Regions from separate parts of the Homo sapiens genome. Here region 2 is linked to region 1. A link means that fine-mapping ties the variant in region 1 to the expression of a gene that starts in the linked region. Tissue or cell type: thyroid. Region 1 holds a variant in brackets; the other region holds the start of a gene. All regions are shown on one strand. Distances are between the middles of the regions.

Evidence for each region. PIP is the estimated chance that this variant, and not a neighbour inherited with it, causes the effect. A credible set is the group of variants that fine-mapping cannot tell apart.
Region 2: LINC02673 starts here. The variant in region 1 is the best candidate, but not a certain one, in a credible set for the expression of LINC02673 in thyroid (GTEx, PIP 0.61).

Annotation. Positions count from the first base shown.
Region 1 is chr10:27,284,699-27,292,984 of GRCh38, forward strand. It overlaps the pseudogene ODAD2P1. Among named protein-coding and RNA genes, the nearest start is that of ACBD5, 48 kb to the left of the region's middle. The variant G/A (reference allele first, on the strand shown) is at 4,146.
Region 2 is chr10:27,339,848-27,348,133 of GRCh38, forward strand. LINC02673 (long intergenic non-protein coding RNA 2673) reads left to right here and starts at 3,589. Exons shown (of 2, transcript NR_187428.1): 1 at 3,589-4,804; 2 at 4,892-5,070.

The DNA.
Region 1 (8,286 bases):
TCCTTGGGTTCCTCTTTCCCACAGACACCACTCTAAATGCAAACTCGAATGAGTCCTGTCTCCTCCTGGACTCTCCTCTGTATCTTGCTCTGCAATAGCCCAAATGAATCATTCTTCCACTTTGCTCTCTCTTCTACATTTTTTTCCTTGCCCCCACCTCATACTACAAGGAAATGAATTTTCTTATATCCTAACCCTATGCACCAAAGCCTCCACTCTCTCCTTTCTTGCATTTATTGAAACTTTTCCATGACAGCAGCGATTCTCCTTCAGATCTTCTTTTCCCTAGGCTCTGTGTAACCACAGGGCATGGGGACCGTAGGCGGAAATCTCCTCTTTATTGCTTCAAACTACCTTACTCTTCAGATTAGATCTCCTTTTCTATGAGGCTGATGTAACCCTCTGTCTTTCCTGGTTGCTGTTTTCTATGGACCCATTGTCACTGACGATTTTGACATTGACTCACTATCACTTTCATCCTATGTCCCATCATCATCTTGAAAAACCTGAAACCCCAGGAGGAAAACCAATACCAAATCTTGGCCTGCGCACTCCCTGGTTTCAGTCTCACTGACTGTTGCCTCCTCTCCATCAAGCTGCTGCTACTGCCACCTCCTGGAATTATCACCAGAAGTACCCTTCTTCCAAAATCTAAACCTAGACTGAATTTTGTTCATTCACTTATTCATACCTGCTTTAATTTATTAATTCTTGTAGCAATTATTTACTGACTTCCTTGTGCTAGGGGAGACAGTATAAAAAGTATAAAAGACAGAAACGGTCCTTGCCTTCATGGAACTTACGAAGACACTACAAGAAAACACAGAAATAAAAATTTTCTGATGGTGACCAAAGTGGACAAGGTACTGAGCTACAAAATAATGGGAACTTAGGTAATTACTCATAGACCACAGATTTGATTCTGTTCTTGCTGAACATCGAGGTAAACACAAAAACCTAACCAGTTACTTAATTTATGTGGTCCTTAAGATGAAAACAGATCAGATCTTCAAAGACAAAACCACACCTTTTCCTTGGAGTTTAACAAAGATACTGAAATACAGTATTCTTCAATAGCATTCCCTTGATACCTGGCAGCCAGCAGGCCCTCCATGCATGTGTGGTGAATGAATATGCATGATAATACAGAACTATCTAACACGTATTTCATGCTTTTTGTATGCCAGGCACTGTTATAAGCTTTTTACATACTAACTGCTGTTATCATCCTCAATTTGCAGGTGAGGAAACCGAGGCACGCACAAGTTAAATGACTACCCCAGCTCCTCTAGGAACCAAGATGAACAGCTCTCATTACGAATATTTGTTTTAACACAGCCACTTTACTAACCATGGAGCTTTGTTCAAATTGTTATTATTACAGAATCTTGCTCTGTCATCCAGGCTGGAGTGCGGTAGCGCAATTTTGCCTCACGGCAACCTCTGCCTCCCAGGTTCAAGTGATTTTCCTACCTCAGCCTCCTGAGTAACTGGGACAAGAGGCACATGCCACTACACCCAGCTAATTTTTGTATTTTTAGTAGAGACAGGGTTTCACCATGTTGGCTAGGCTGGTCTCAAACTCCCAACCTCAAGCAATCCACTCACCTCGGCCTCCCAAAGTGCTGGGATTACAGGTGTGAGCCCACCACACCCGGCCCAAATTATTTTTAACTCATTGTCTCTATAATGAGAGTAATAACAACCTCATAGATTGTTGAGTGAATTAAAATGAGACATTTAACCCACAGTCTGTTGTCCTGAACTCTCGTGGCCAAATGCATGCGGTTCTGAAAAACTCACTTTAAAAAAGGGTAATGAAATTCATATAATATATATTATATGATAACCTCTATTGGAGTGTGAGCCAATACCCTATAATCAAAAACATGAGCATTTCTGTAGTGAAACATGAATATTCACACTGAATGAGAGGAATAAAGACCATAAATAGTCTAGTATCAATTCATATAAGTCTTTAGCAACAAGTTAAGTCCAGTGGGGAAAAAAATCAGTTTTCAGAGATTTTTCAATTTCAGAATTAGAGGAAAAGTATTGTGGACTTGTGTGATCTATAATGGTCATTGACTTTATGACTTTGATATTTAAGGACACCTTAATATGTGATTGGCAAGGGCCACATTTTAAGTAATTTTGGATCCTTCAATGTGAATGGTTTTTTTTCTCCTCTTAATTTCTCTGAGGTTTCCTTGCTTGTAGAATGTGGATGATAGAGCCTGCTTTGCAAAGTGGTTGTGAGGTTTAGAAATAATAAATATAAAGTGCCTGGGACAGGCCGGGCGCAGTGGCTCATACCTGTAATACCAGCACTTTGGGAGGCCGAGACGGGAGGATCACGAGGTCAAGAGTTTGAGACCAGCCTGACCAACATGGTGAAACCCCGTCACTACTAAAAATAAAAAAATTAGCCAGACGTGGTGGCGCATGCCTATAAGCCCAGCTACTCAGGAGGCTGAGGCAGGAGAATCACTTGAACCCGGGTGGCGGAGGTTGCAGTGAGCCAAGATTGTGCCAGTGCACTCCAGCCAGGGCGACAGAGTGAGACTCCATCTCACAAAAAAAAAAAAAGTACCTAGGACAAAATAGACCAACCTACACAAAAATGGTGGCTGCTGTTGGTATTATTTAATATTAAAAATAGCTAGAAGATTTAAAAGTTTGCTTCTGTCCTGTGAGATGAGGAATATGTGGGAAACAATATCAGGATAAATATCCTGGGTTCAGCACCTCTCCACATGTGAGTGATGGATGAGTAGTTCCTGAGACATCACTGTGGATTTGGTGACCCAATGGCAGTAACCTGGCATCCGGCAGTGGGAGGTGGAGACAAGTTGGTGTGATGAGTGTGCATGTGCATGAGGGACCTCTGCAGGGACATAGGGCATATATTGGATTCCAGAAGGCTCTTGTAATACTGTTGTCCATGCATCAAACCATAGAATGTGGTGTACTTCTGTGGAACTCAACACTTTGCATGGTAATGTCTCTCAGAGTTGGTGGCTAACTCTTTGGTCCTGAACCTGATTATGTTCATGTTATTGCTGTTCTTTGGCACCTTGTGCCCTTGCAAGTACTTCAGTGTAGGCATTATGGAGGGATGTGCTGAATATTGACTCTCTTTGGTAAAAGAGACTCTTTCACTTTAGGGCCTTGTGGCACTGCCCAGTTGAACTTACTGGAATAATAGAAATAGTCAATATCTGAGCTGTCCAGTATGGTAACCACGAGACACGTGGGCCATTGAGCACTTGAATGTGGCTAGTGTGATTGGAGAACTGGATTTTTAATTTTCTTTAATTTTAGTTAAATAAATAAGTTCAAATATCTGTAACTATAGACGACCACATGCAATGAGTGGCAGTCTTATTGAAAAGTGCAGCCTTAAGACATTCACTGAATACCCTTGTTTATTTCTCACTGTTTTCTTTATTATGATTATTGCACCCAGAGCAATTGCACCTGCAATAGAGACAGGTTTATTCACCTCACGCAGTTCCTTTTTATTTTATTTTATTTTATTTTTGAGAGAGAGTCTTACTCTGTCTTCCAGGCTGGAGTGCAGTGGTATGATAATGTAATAATGGTTTACTGCAGCTCAAACTTCTGGGCTCAAGCGATCCTCCTGCGTCAAGCCTCCTGAGTAGCTGGGATTACAGGCATGCACCACCATGTCTGGCTAATTAAAATTTGTTTTTGTAGAGACAGAGTCTTGCTATGTTGTCCAGGCTAGCATTGAACTCTTGGCCTCAAGTGATCCTCCCACCTCAGCCTCCCAAAGCACTGAGATTATAGGCATGAACCACTGCACCTGGCCTCATGTAGATCTTAACAGAGATCTACTAGAACTCAGAAGGTGTTGGTATCTGATCCATTGCTTGTGCCCATGTTGCCAAAATATGATTATAACCATCTCCACACTGTAGCTTACATGTGTATGTGTGTTGTTATTGTTCTTAGGAAGAGTGCTGAAAAGATTGAGGAAACTGTTAGCGATAGCTCCTCAGAAAGTGAGGAAGATGAAGAACCACCTGACCATCGTCAGGAAGCAAGTGCAGATTTGCCATCAGAATATTGGCAAATTCAGAAGCTGGTGAAATATTTAAAGGTAAGAAAGGCCTGTGGTA[G/A]TATGTTTGCAATGTTCATTTAAAATACTTTCCCAAGGATGTATATGCTGATTCCAAGTTTATGTTTCTTTCAAATAAGAGTAGTAAGCATTCCTGTTGTTTTATCTAAGTGTGTGCAGGGAAAGGTCTTATTACCCTGAGGATGCAAGATTCATCCTCATGGAGCAACCAGGCTGCCTGGTACCAACCCTCTCTCCTGGCTGGGGAGTGCCCATGGTAAACAGCTGACACTGAGACTTGCTGCCATTTTATGATTTGTAGTATGGTATGGAAGAAATAACATGGATTTTTAAAGCGGACTTTGGTTAAACTCCAGGCTGTTTCCCTTACTAGCAACGTAGCTGTTGAAACGTTACAGTTTTGAGCCCTAATTTTCTCAACACTTGGAATAAAATTAATATACCTGTACTACAGGACTATTATAAAGTTTAAGAAAACACACTTGAAACATACAGCGTGGTTTCTGAGACATTGTGGGTGTTTATAATGTGGATTGGTTCATTTTCATTTCTCTCAAGTCAGATAGCATATATGAGAATATTTTACATAATAATTGGCCACGTAATGTATTTAAGTACTTGAATTTGCAGGAGGGCAAGGGGAATGACTCACCAAAACCCAGATTAATATTCATTTCTGATGTCAGATAGCAAGTATTGATGATATCTAGGCCTTGTGTAAAGTCGACGTCCAGAGTATTTGAAAAAGCATTTGACTCAACTCATGTTTTCTTTCTGCTTTTCCATGTCTTTGGTCAAATCAACCAAGGGCATTTGCCAGTGGCTTTGCTTGATTCAATCATTGCAGTGTAAACATTTATCAAAATATCACATTGTACTCCACAAAAATACACAATTATTCTTTGTCAATTAAAAATAATTTGTATTTTGGCTGGGCGTGGTGGCTCACGCCTGTAATCCCAGCACTTAGGGAGGCCGAGGTGGGTGGATCATCTGAGGTCAGGAGATCAAGACTAGCCTGGCCAACATGGTGAAACCCTGTCTCTACTAAAAATACAAAAAAATTAGCCGAGTGTGGTGGTGGACGCCTGTAATCCCAGCTACTTGGGAGGCTGAGGCAGGAGAATCGCTTGAACCCAGGAGGCGGAGGTTGCAGTGAGCCAAGATCGCACCATTGCACTCCAGCCTGGGTGACAAGAGCAAAACTCCATCTCAAAAAGTAAAATAAATAAAATTTTGTATTTCAGAAAGGACATGAGCTTATACAAAACAAGCCCTAATGCTCAACTTGGAGATCCTTTTGGCAGGCTCTTAATGATTTTACCAACATCAATGCAAAATGAAAAATATTGTTTTTTGGTCTGGACTGTTTGTCATGAAACAAACCTCTAGACTACTGGAGAGAACAGTTAATATTTTGTGAGTTTTAAAATTTCATGTTAAGCGTGATACTTCATAAATATTAAATATTTTTATGGCATCTGTCAATTTTTAAAATGTTTTTTATTTGGCATTTATTTTGTGTTAATGTTTCCCTCATTTAGTGTTTCATATTATGAAATTCCTATATCAGGTGCACATTGTTGTTACATGTTGTTGCAGTATATAATTATGTCACATATTTTGGCTCATAATAATAATAAATCATGCATTTATTACATAAGTTTTTTTTTTTTACAGAAAACCTCTGAAATTTTTAGCATAACTCTACCACAAAAAATGATTCACTGTTTATTATGATAGAAATGATTCACTATTATTACAGGCATTCATTATTATTTAAAGACATGTAAATTAAATGTTAGGAAAAATACAGAATAATATAATTTTGGGAACTCATGAAAATTCCTAGGAATTTTGATTGTATATTCCTGAATCTTGAAGATGAACCTGTCGGGAATTTGGAAACACTAGCATGGAGCACAGGCTAGATTCAGGCCACACGTTTCTGCACTCCCCTTTGGCAGGAGTATTTGTGCACAAACCACATAGTTCAACACAGAGGTCCCGCCTGGCACACATGGCGACCATGTCCAGCCTTGGGACATTTAGGACAACCTTGCAACAGTGCCTCTGCATCTTTACTGAACCCCAGGGCCTCCTGTAATTACCTCTCCTGGACTTCTAAAAAGCATGCCATCTGGGGAAAAAAAAACAAAACTGGCAGTGGAGAACTTTGCCAACACCACTCTCTCTCTGAGGCGGGCAGCTCTAGACAGGGTGACTGAGGCTTAGACATGGTCCGCCCTTCTTCCTCTCCTTTCCTCTCCTTTCCTCTCCTCCCCTCTCCTCCCCTCTCCTCCCCTCTCCTCCCCTCCCCTCTTTCCTTTTCTCTTTCCTAGGCTGATCCTGAACTCCTGGCCTCAAGCAGTCTTCCCACCTTGGCTCCCAAAGTGCTGGGATTGCAGGCATGAGCCTCTACACCCGTCCAAGACATAGCCTTTCAGAAGATGAATTAAGAGAGGCCTGAGTTTTTCCCAGGAGTCCTGGTCCATTATCTTTATTTCATTAGCAAAAGGAAACAGAGTCAAAATGGCAGAAGCAAAAGATGGGCTAGGAAGCAGAATACCAGAGTAATTAGAAGCACGATCTTTGACGTTGGAAAGACCAGTTGAGTTGAAATTCTGCCACTTACTCAATAGCCTTGGATGAGTTGACTAACCCCTCTAAGCTTCAGTTTCCTCATTGGTGAAGGTGGAAAAATAAAAGTTCTCTTATATTAGGATTATTAAGAATGTTAAATGAAATACAACACATGTAAAGTGCTTAGCACAAAGTAGTAACTGTTGGCAATAATAATCATTGCTATTGCTTATTATTATTGTAGCAAATGTGTGGCATGGAGACTTAACTGACTCGTGCAGGTGGCCTTCAACTTTTACTTTCAGTTCTCTAGCAACCAATAAAAGGGGGGAAATAGAGTGAGTTAATACAGGGAGGGAAAGTCTCTCAACGTCTTAAAATAAAAACAAACCAGTTGCCAGTGAGTATAACTGATCCTGGTGCTAAGAGCAGGAAGAATTTTCTCCCTTAGGATTTAATGGGGCAGGCACAGAGTGAGAGAGTGAACAGCCGCAATAATACCCTCCCAGTGAACATGGCAAAGAGAGTTTCTCATAATAGCCTAATTACTGGATAACTGTCTTGAGTTTTTCAACTATTTAGGATAAGTCCAGGTAGCATTAGGCCAAAAAGAGATGCACTATTTCTGTCCCAGTACAGCTAAAAAAAACATTTATTGATGAAGTGCTACTTAAATTTGCACGAGTTATTCATCAATAAATCATGTGCAAATGTGATACTCTTGGCCAGACAGTAAATTGCTTGGAATTCTTATAGTTCCCACAGGTAAATATTCTTCATGTAGCCAATAAAAGGAAAAGTATATCTTTAAATGATTTCAAGGTTTTCGACACAGATAAATATTCTATCTGGAGACATAAAATGATACTAGAAGTCTATGAAATGCAAAGTTGAATGTCTCTAGGCAATCTCAAAATAAATACACTTAACATTTTAATTTATGAAATTATGATTTAAATGTAGATTTAAGCTAGCAGAGAAATGTTCATGTTGACCTGACTTTCTATTTACCATTTTCTAAGTAATGTCTGTGATTGTTGGGGAAAAAAAAGAGATTTAATGAGCTCATTAATACCCAGACAGGTCAATGAACTATAGCTTATTAATTGTCCAGAGCTATGAGCTCATATCTTGGCACATCAAAATAGTTTGTATTTAATTATTTGGTTTGACATATGTTAATTTCAACCTGCAAGTTTTATATATGTATATATTCTTTTCATCTGGATTTTTTGAACACAATTTAATTTTTAAATTAATGAATGTATCACATTTTTACTCACCAACCTTCCAGCTTCTTCTCTCTCCCATAGCTGATGATGCTGTACCCTAATTCTAAAGGAAGCAAGGAACCCCCTTTTCAGCTACCTTACTGATAAGCACTTATGTTCTGCCTTCTGCCATCCTGATGGTTCAGGTTGTCTGTCTTACTACCTACTTCTTGAGTAGAGAGATCACATTAAATTTATTGCTGTATCTCGCAGGGCATCTTGCTAATGTGCACAGGCTCGCCTCCCTACCTCTGCCCTAATGGTGCGAAGGGGAGAGAGCGAGGTTCCTTAGTGGCAGGGCTTTGCTGTTCTTCACTCTCAGCCCCC
Region 2 (8,286 bases), 55 kb after region 1:
CAATAATCCATTTTGATTCTGGTTTGTATTGTAATTGCTACTTAATTTTTGGGAAAATATCAGAAATATGAATAAAATGGCTTATTAATGAAAGTTCTAACTCATCTATATAGATTAGCATAATAGAAGCCACAAAATCACTTGAATTTTAAGGGACAATTCTGAGGAGAAAGATATAATATTTTCTGCAATAGGCATAACCTATTCAAATATAACCATGATTAATCTAAAAAGGCTTAAAGGCCTTCTAATAGAAGATGATTATTTATGGTTTATATAAGGAAAAATCATTGTTTAAAAAATCTAAATTCTAGACGTTAATGCCATTATTAATGATTTAATGTAAAATATAAACTATATATTATAAACACCTATCAACTGTCTTGAACACCTTGAAATCTTTACCATAATATACTATGAGAGAGGAATTGATAACTGAAGTATTTACAGAGGCAAAAGGGGTAAGTTGAGTAAGTGATGTGCCTAGGTGGGCACAGCAGCAAACTGGAAACATATGCTTTGTGTAAAGCTAGAACCTCTTCAGAGCATACCAGTCATATGGGCTCAAGAGACACCAGATTCTATCCTTTAAGAGGAAATCCAGATTTCTGCATGTCTCCTAAATTTTACACGGTGACTTAATTTATGCAGGCAAATTTTGCTTTCTTGTAGTTTTACACTAATTGGAAAGAAAAAAAAACTTGGGTGGGAAAAAATGTTTGAATAAGTTTTACCTTTAACAAATTCAAATATTTATCATAAGTGCACAGAAAAGCCATACTCTCTAATAGTTCTTGTAAAAATATTAATATTAAAGTAAAATCTTAGACAAGTTCTTTCAAACTATTTTCATTTGAGGAATGTTTGAGCTTCCAAATATAAAAAAACTTGCATATGTTAATGTTAAAACAAACAGATTTCAAATATTTTGAAAATAACATTGGTTAAGGTCTACCTTGTTTTTCACTTGGATGTCTGCACCACGTGACAGCAGTTTTGCCACCACTGACAAATTCTCACTATAAACAGCATAATGGAGAGCCATGTTGCCATACACATCTACAATATTTGGACTGGGACCAGAATCTACCAGAATATTTGCATAAGCCTCCCTCCAGCATTGTAGAGCCTGTCAGTATTAAAGCAAGAAGTGAATTATAAATTATAGGAAATCAAAATAAATATTTCACAGGTTTCAGAAACTAGTTGTATTTCAATGAGATAAATTCATTTTTATTCCACGTATTTAAACCAAATCCATCTCCTGCTGAAAGGACTGGCTACTATTTACCTTCATCAGAGGTGTCCTGTTTTCACTGTCACGGACATCAAGCCGGCACTTTCTGTCTGCCAGAAGTGTTATTACTTCCACATGGCTGTTGACACAGGCCCCATGTAGAGCAGTCCTATGAGAGTGAGAGGACTTTTTAGGAAAGTTTAGTCCATTGTCTCAAAACATACAATGATTTATACAATTGTAAACATTAAATACCATGCTCTTTCTCTGCCTTCAAAACAAATATTTAATATTCTCCTTAAGAAAGTACAACATTCATTCACTCTTATTACTCACTACATTAATGAAAGAGTGGCCTATTTGAATAGAAAGAGCTTGGCCTTTGGACTCAGTTCAACTTGGGCTTGAATAAACTTTACGGTCTTTCACTTACTAGCTGTCTCTTAACCTCTCTGTGCCTCAATTTTCTCATCAATAAAGTGAAGATGAATACAGCAGTTATCTCACAGGACATCACTGTGATGCCTCGATGAGAATCTATGCAAAGTATTTTGAAGAGTTTTTAGCACATGTAACAGCTCAGTAATTGTTAGATATTATAATTATAACTTCTACTTAACAAAGACAACATTTTAAGTAAAATAATACAATCATGCCTACTTTGTGGTGTGTTTTAAAGGTTACAGATAACACTGTATTTTAACGGTTCTAAGATGCTCAATTTCTCATATTTTAGCATCTCTGACATTGAAATGCCACTTACAATTCATTATTTATTAGAACTATATTTGGCAAAAATTTAAACAATCTTTTATTGGTACATAAAATAAGGAGGCATCACACAATTCAGGGTGCCTTCCATGAAGTGGAATATGGTATATACAACAGGACGATGGTAGTCCTAATCACAGGATTTACACTTAAAGAAATTTTAGCTTTTAAGAGTACTACGCAAAAGGAGAGTTGAAATAAAAACAACAAATTGTTAAAACAAAGTACTCCTTTAATATTTTAAAAACTTCAAGCCAAAGAAAACTTGGGATTCAAATGAATAGGTATGGCTCATTTTATTTTGTATTTAGATTTACAGAATGTATATTAATTCATATTTAGATTTATGGAGGGAGTACATGTAAATTAGGTATTTCCAATTATTCATATTACTATTTAAAGCTGTTATAAATTTCCAAAATCGTGGTTGGTAGTTATCTTTTACTAATTTCTCACTTCAGAAGTATTTTTGTTTGAAAGATGAGAGGAAAAGCTTCAATTGAGATTCAGTCCTATTACTCCAATTTTAAGCCTCTCATGTTGCTGAGGCTGAGCAGGTAAATGTGAAATTTTTAAGGATGAAAGGGTCTTGAGAGTTAATAGAATGTGTCTTCTACATAATAGGCATTCAGCTTACATGTGATAAATGGATTCAAAGAATGGATAAATATAGTTGGGAAGTTCAATATCTTAAAAAACTGCTATAAATAAAGCACTTATATTTGCTACTTTATTTTCCTAATAACAAAACTACACTAAAATGATTAATCTGTAATTATTGACATATATATAATAAATCTAGATATAATAAAAATATGTTTCTAATAAAATGTACATGTAAATCAACAAGCACAGATAAAAAGTTTCTCTTCTGAAAATGCTAAAAGTTCACAGAATATACTAATCCACAAAAAATAAAAATTAAAATATAGAAAGTGAAAAATTATTTTAATCTGTGCAAAATTCATATTCCTGCTCTTCCCCAAAATTATTTCATTAATAATAAACTTTTACTAATAACATTGTACTTGTTCAATGCAGAAATCAAAGATAATAAAAAGGAAAAACATTTTATATTAAAACAAATGCCCTCAAATAACAAATTTTATCATATTTCGTACATAATTTCAGATAACACAAGACCATCATCTGTATGTATAAACAAACTGAACTTTACCCTTACTTGGTACACCAAAATACATTTTCAAATGTCAACATACTTCTGTATATGTTTCTACATTCAGTGGTCACATTTTATCCCACGCTGTAAATTCACTGAAATGTATTTATAAAAGCCATTGTATGGATTCTTCTTAATACACTGATATTTTAAGCAGCGCTCAAAAAAGAAATTGTGTGTATGTTTCCTTATTTTCTAAAAATATCTTAATGTAATAGAATTGATCACCAACAGGCATATACAATTTTTTAAATATGGTACTTACCACCAAATTGTCTATTTGAAAAGTCATCTGCAACTTAAACTTTAAGCAGCAGTATAAATATCACTGCTCTTTATCCTCATAAACTTTGTGGATAGAAAACAGTATTTGATTCCTGTTTTAACTTAAATGCCTTCTCTAACGAGGAACACTAAATATTGTTTCCTGTGTGCATAAGTCACTTGCAGATCTAGAAGAAGGAGTTTGCCCAATTTTAAATTAGAGGCAAAGTACTTTTCTTAGATCTGCAATTTACATCTCTAATTTAAATTGCCCAATTTTAAATAGAGGATTTTTTTGTTGATTTGAGTGAATTCTCTGTAAAATGAAGATTTTTAAATCTGCTATATATACACACATGCACATACATGTGTAGTAAATATTTTACAAGTATGCTGCCTTTTATTTTTTCTCAAATGCAGGGTAATTTTTGTTTTGCTAAATTAACCTTCACAATGCTTATTTCTGAGAGTCTTAGAAAGGTTTTGTCAACATAAAAATGTATCTGTGTAAATAGGCATTTATATTTTCTTCTGATTTTTTTTCATTTTGTATATTAAAAATTTTTAATCTATATTCCATCAGGAACTTATTTCTTTTATGTACTGTAACTTTGGCATTTTTTTCTAGAGATCATCAAACCCAAGAGAGTCTAGATTTTCTCCTGTTATTTTCCAGAAGTTTTATAGTTTTGTATTTGACATTTAGGTCCGTGATTCATTTTGACTTAATTTTTGTGAGAAGGTAAGATCTGATTCATTTTTTTTACATGTGGGTATTCAGTTGTTCCAGCACCACTTTCTGAAGAAACCAACCTTTGTTTCATCATGTTGCCTTTACTTTTTCATCAAAGATTAATTAAATATATCGATGTGTCGCTATTTCTAAACTCTCTGTCTTGTTTCATTAACCTGTCTATTCTTTCATCAATATGATACTGCCTTGATTACCGTAGCCTTACAGTAAGTCTTGAAGTTGAGTAGTGCCTGTCTGTCCTCCAGCTTTGTTCTCCTTCAATATTGTGTTAGCTATTCAAGGTCTTTTTCTTCCCCATATAAGCTTTAGAATTACTTTTTCTATATCCATAAAATAATTTGCTTCCATTTTGATTAGAAGTGCATTGAATCTGTACATTGGTAAGAAATGACATCCTGATGATACTGAGTTATTCTATTCATGAATATGATGTATCTTCTCCATCTCTTCAGTTCTTTTTTTATTTCCATCATCACATATGGACAGTTTATGAAATTACATAACTCCCTCTACCTTGACCAAAGGACAGTGATGAATTCCTCGTTCTGCAGCCAACAAGTCACCTCTGAGGGCCATGTGTCTAAACATAGACAGGAGGGTAAGAAAATGATAAAGACATCCTGGGAAAAATAGGAAATTCGAGAATCAGCAACTGTGTCTAAGTAACTCCTTTCCATTTCCCCAGGACACCTGTTGCTTCAGCCAACACCTGCTGGCATGTGCTGAGGATGCTGGTGCTGCTGGCTTTCCCAGCCCTGCCCCCGGGGCTGCTTTGGGTGTGTGCCTCTTGACTTTAGTGAGAATGTACTTTTTCATCCCTACCATGGGTGAAAAGTTTTCACAAATAAAAACTTTTTAAAATAATGCCAACTTTTGTATTAGATAGAGGTGCTGCGTGTGCAGGTTTGCGTGTGTCTTTTTGGTAGAATGTTGTATTTTCTTTTGGGGATATTCCCAGTAATGAGATTGCTGGGTCAATTAGTAGCTGTGTTTTACATCTTTTGAGAAATCCCCAAACTGCTTTCCACAGTGGCTGACCTAATTTACATTCCCAGAGACAGTGAATAGGAGTTTCCTTTGCAGCCTCGCCAGCATCTGTTAACAAATGACCACTTTTATTCCAGACATAGATCATCTGTTAGTTTTGATTTTAGCACATCCTCTGAAGAAGATAGTGTTTTTCACAACCAAAGATGATTTCACCTTCCAAACGTGTTTTTTTTTTCTCATTTTCTGATGGCATGCGGAACTTTCTGTCTGCATCAGTTTGGGTATAAGTTAAGAGCATTGTACCTTGAAGTGTCCCATCTCACTGTTCCCATGCAGTGTTCTGTCCCAGAACTCTTCACTAGCTTTTTACCCCTGTGGGCCCAGTAGGGAGAGGAGCCCCCCAGAAAGTCTTTCACCAGGCAAGTGACGAACTAAAGAATTACACAATCATGTGTGACTGTTCTCAAAGCTCCCAAACATAGAAAGGGGGACAGTTGCAGGCAATACAGCTTTATTAATGGCAGTAACATCTCAGCTCAGCAGGAAACATACTGTGGGCTATGAGAACAGGTTACAATGAATATTGAGGCAGAAAAAGTCACATTAATCACATATTAGCCCCAAAATGCTCTTGCTCAAATGGTAACTGTCCTTCCTGCACATGTGGCAATACCAGACTTGCAGAAAGCACACGTGGTGAGAGACAAAGCCTGCTGCCTGTCTGTGAGCTTCAGTGCCCAATGAGACGCAGCAAGCTTTCGCCTCTTCTTTCTACACTCCTGCTTTTATTGCACAGTACTTTTTTACATATGTTTTATTCCATTTTTGAATGTTGTATTCCATTGGTCTTTCAGACTAATGATGAAACAACACAACACAATTTTAATTTCCAAGTCTCTACAATATTTTAAAGGGGAAGTCACTCTCTTTTAATTCTCAGACTTTTCATGGATATTTTAATTTGTTTGCTCTTCTTTACAATAAAATTTCTATATCCAGAACACAGATGTTATCTATATTGGAGTTAAAATCAACTTATTTTATTTTTTTTATTTTTTGACTTTTATTTTAATCTCAGGGGCACATGTGCAGGATGTACAGGTTTGTTACATAGGGAAATGTCTGTCAGCAGGGCGGGGTTGTTGTACAGATTATTTCATCACCCAGGTGTTAAGCCTGGTGTCCATTAGTTTTTTTTCCCGATCCTCTCTCTCCTTCCACCTTCCACCCTCCGATAGGCCCCAGTGTGTGTTGTTTCCCTCTATGTGTCCATGTGTTCTCATCATTTAGCTCCCACTTACAAGTGAGAACATGCTGTATTTGGTTTTCTGTTCCTGAATTCCTTTGCAAGATAATGGTCTCCACCTCCGTCCATGCCCTTGCAAAGGTACATATACACCATGGAATACCATACAGCCATAAAATCAACTTATTAATTAAAGTACTTTTGATGTCTTAATAATGTTGACCCTGCCTAATCATGTAATGTCATAATTTTTCATTTATACAAATCTATTTTTAGGTTTTTAAGAAACATTTCGCACCAATTCCATACTAATTAAATTATTTTAAATAATTTTCTTTAAAATGTTGGCATTATCTCTTTTCCATCTATGAACACAAGACATTCTCATTAATTCAATTAACATAATTTGTTGTGTTAATGAATTTCCTAACGCGATGAGTCTCACCTGCATTTCTGGAATAAATGGACTTCCTAATGATCTAATATTTTAAAGGGTTGGCACAATGGTTTTTAACATTCAAAAATTTTACTTTCATATTAATATGCTCTAATTATGTATAATACTCCATGCGGCATCAAACAAGTAAAGTTATCATATCAGTTTTTTTCATTTTTAAAATAGTTCAGTTTTATTCTGCTAGTACCATAAAAACAATGTAAACACAAGCGCTTTGTACATCTTTCTGGTGAATTCACATAATGCTTAGTTCCCTGATCCTTTGACCTCCTCGTCTTCTCCAGTTATTTTCTGTTTGAACCACTGGCCTCAGGAGTGGAGTAGGTTTGGTGCTTAGGAGAGAGCAATGTGGCTTTTTGGTATGACTCGTTTGCCCTCTCAGCACACTCCCGTTACTCCTAACACAAAGCTTGAGGTTTAAGTCCTTAAACCTGTAGGTTTCACCATCAGCTTTTTCTTTCTTTCTTTCTTTCTTTCTTTCTTTCTTTCTTTCTTTCTTTCTTTCTTTCTTTCTTTCTTTCTCTTTCTTTCCTTCCTTCCTTCCTTCCTTCCTTCCTTCCTTCCTTCCTTCCTTCCTTCATTTCCTCTTTCTTTCTCTTTCTTTCTTTCTCTCTCTCTTTCTCTCTCTCTCTTTCTTTCTTTTTTCTTTTTCTTTTTTTTCTTTTCGCATAGGCATTACTAGGGATGTGAATGGGAGACTGGTGTAGAAAGTGCTGAGGAGCCGAAGCCAACAAATTGCTTTAAACACAAGATGAAAATGCTCTGTTCCATCCACACAAAGAATCACCTAATACTGGTGTGAGGCATCTCACTTAGCTGTGGAGGAGTCCTTGGAATTAGATCTCAGAAAGACAGTTCTGGCTTTAAGACAGTAAAACCTTTTGGCAATGGGCCAATTGCCTTGAAAAAAAAAAAAAACCAGAGTTCTACTTTAAAGACCTTGCAAGTGGAGAATTGTCCTACAAAGATTCTTGGAAATGTTAACAGAGATAACTGACATGGGTAACTGGGGGCCAACCAGGAACTGTCAACAGCCAGATCTCAGCAAACACAGGACAGCCAGTTAATAGTTCCTTCAGTTCTCTGATGACCACAAATGTAATTTTATTTTATTTAGCCTTGTGGAGGTTCTGCAACAAATGTAATTTTAAAGGAATTGGGAGCCAGAAAGATAAATGCAACTCCTTCAACTGTGTGACACGGCAGACTGATTAATCTGGGTTCCCAGAGTGTGGAGCAAGTGCCCTGCATTTGCACTTGCAGATGCAGAACGGCCCAGGGGGAACTTGCATGATGCTGAACCCCACAGGACAGAATTACTTCAATCGCCTGCTCCTGACTACTATAAGGAAGAAGTCTCAGTGTCTCAGTTTGGATCTACACTCGG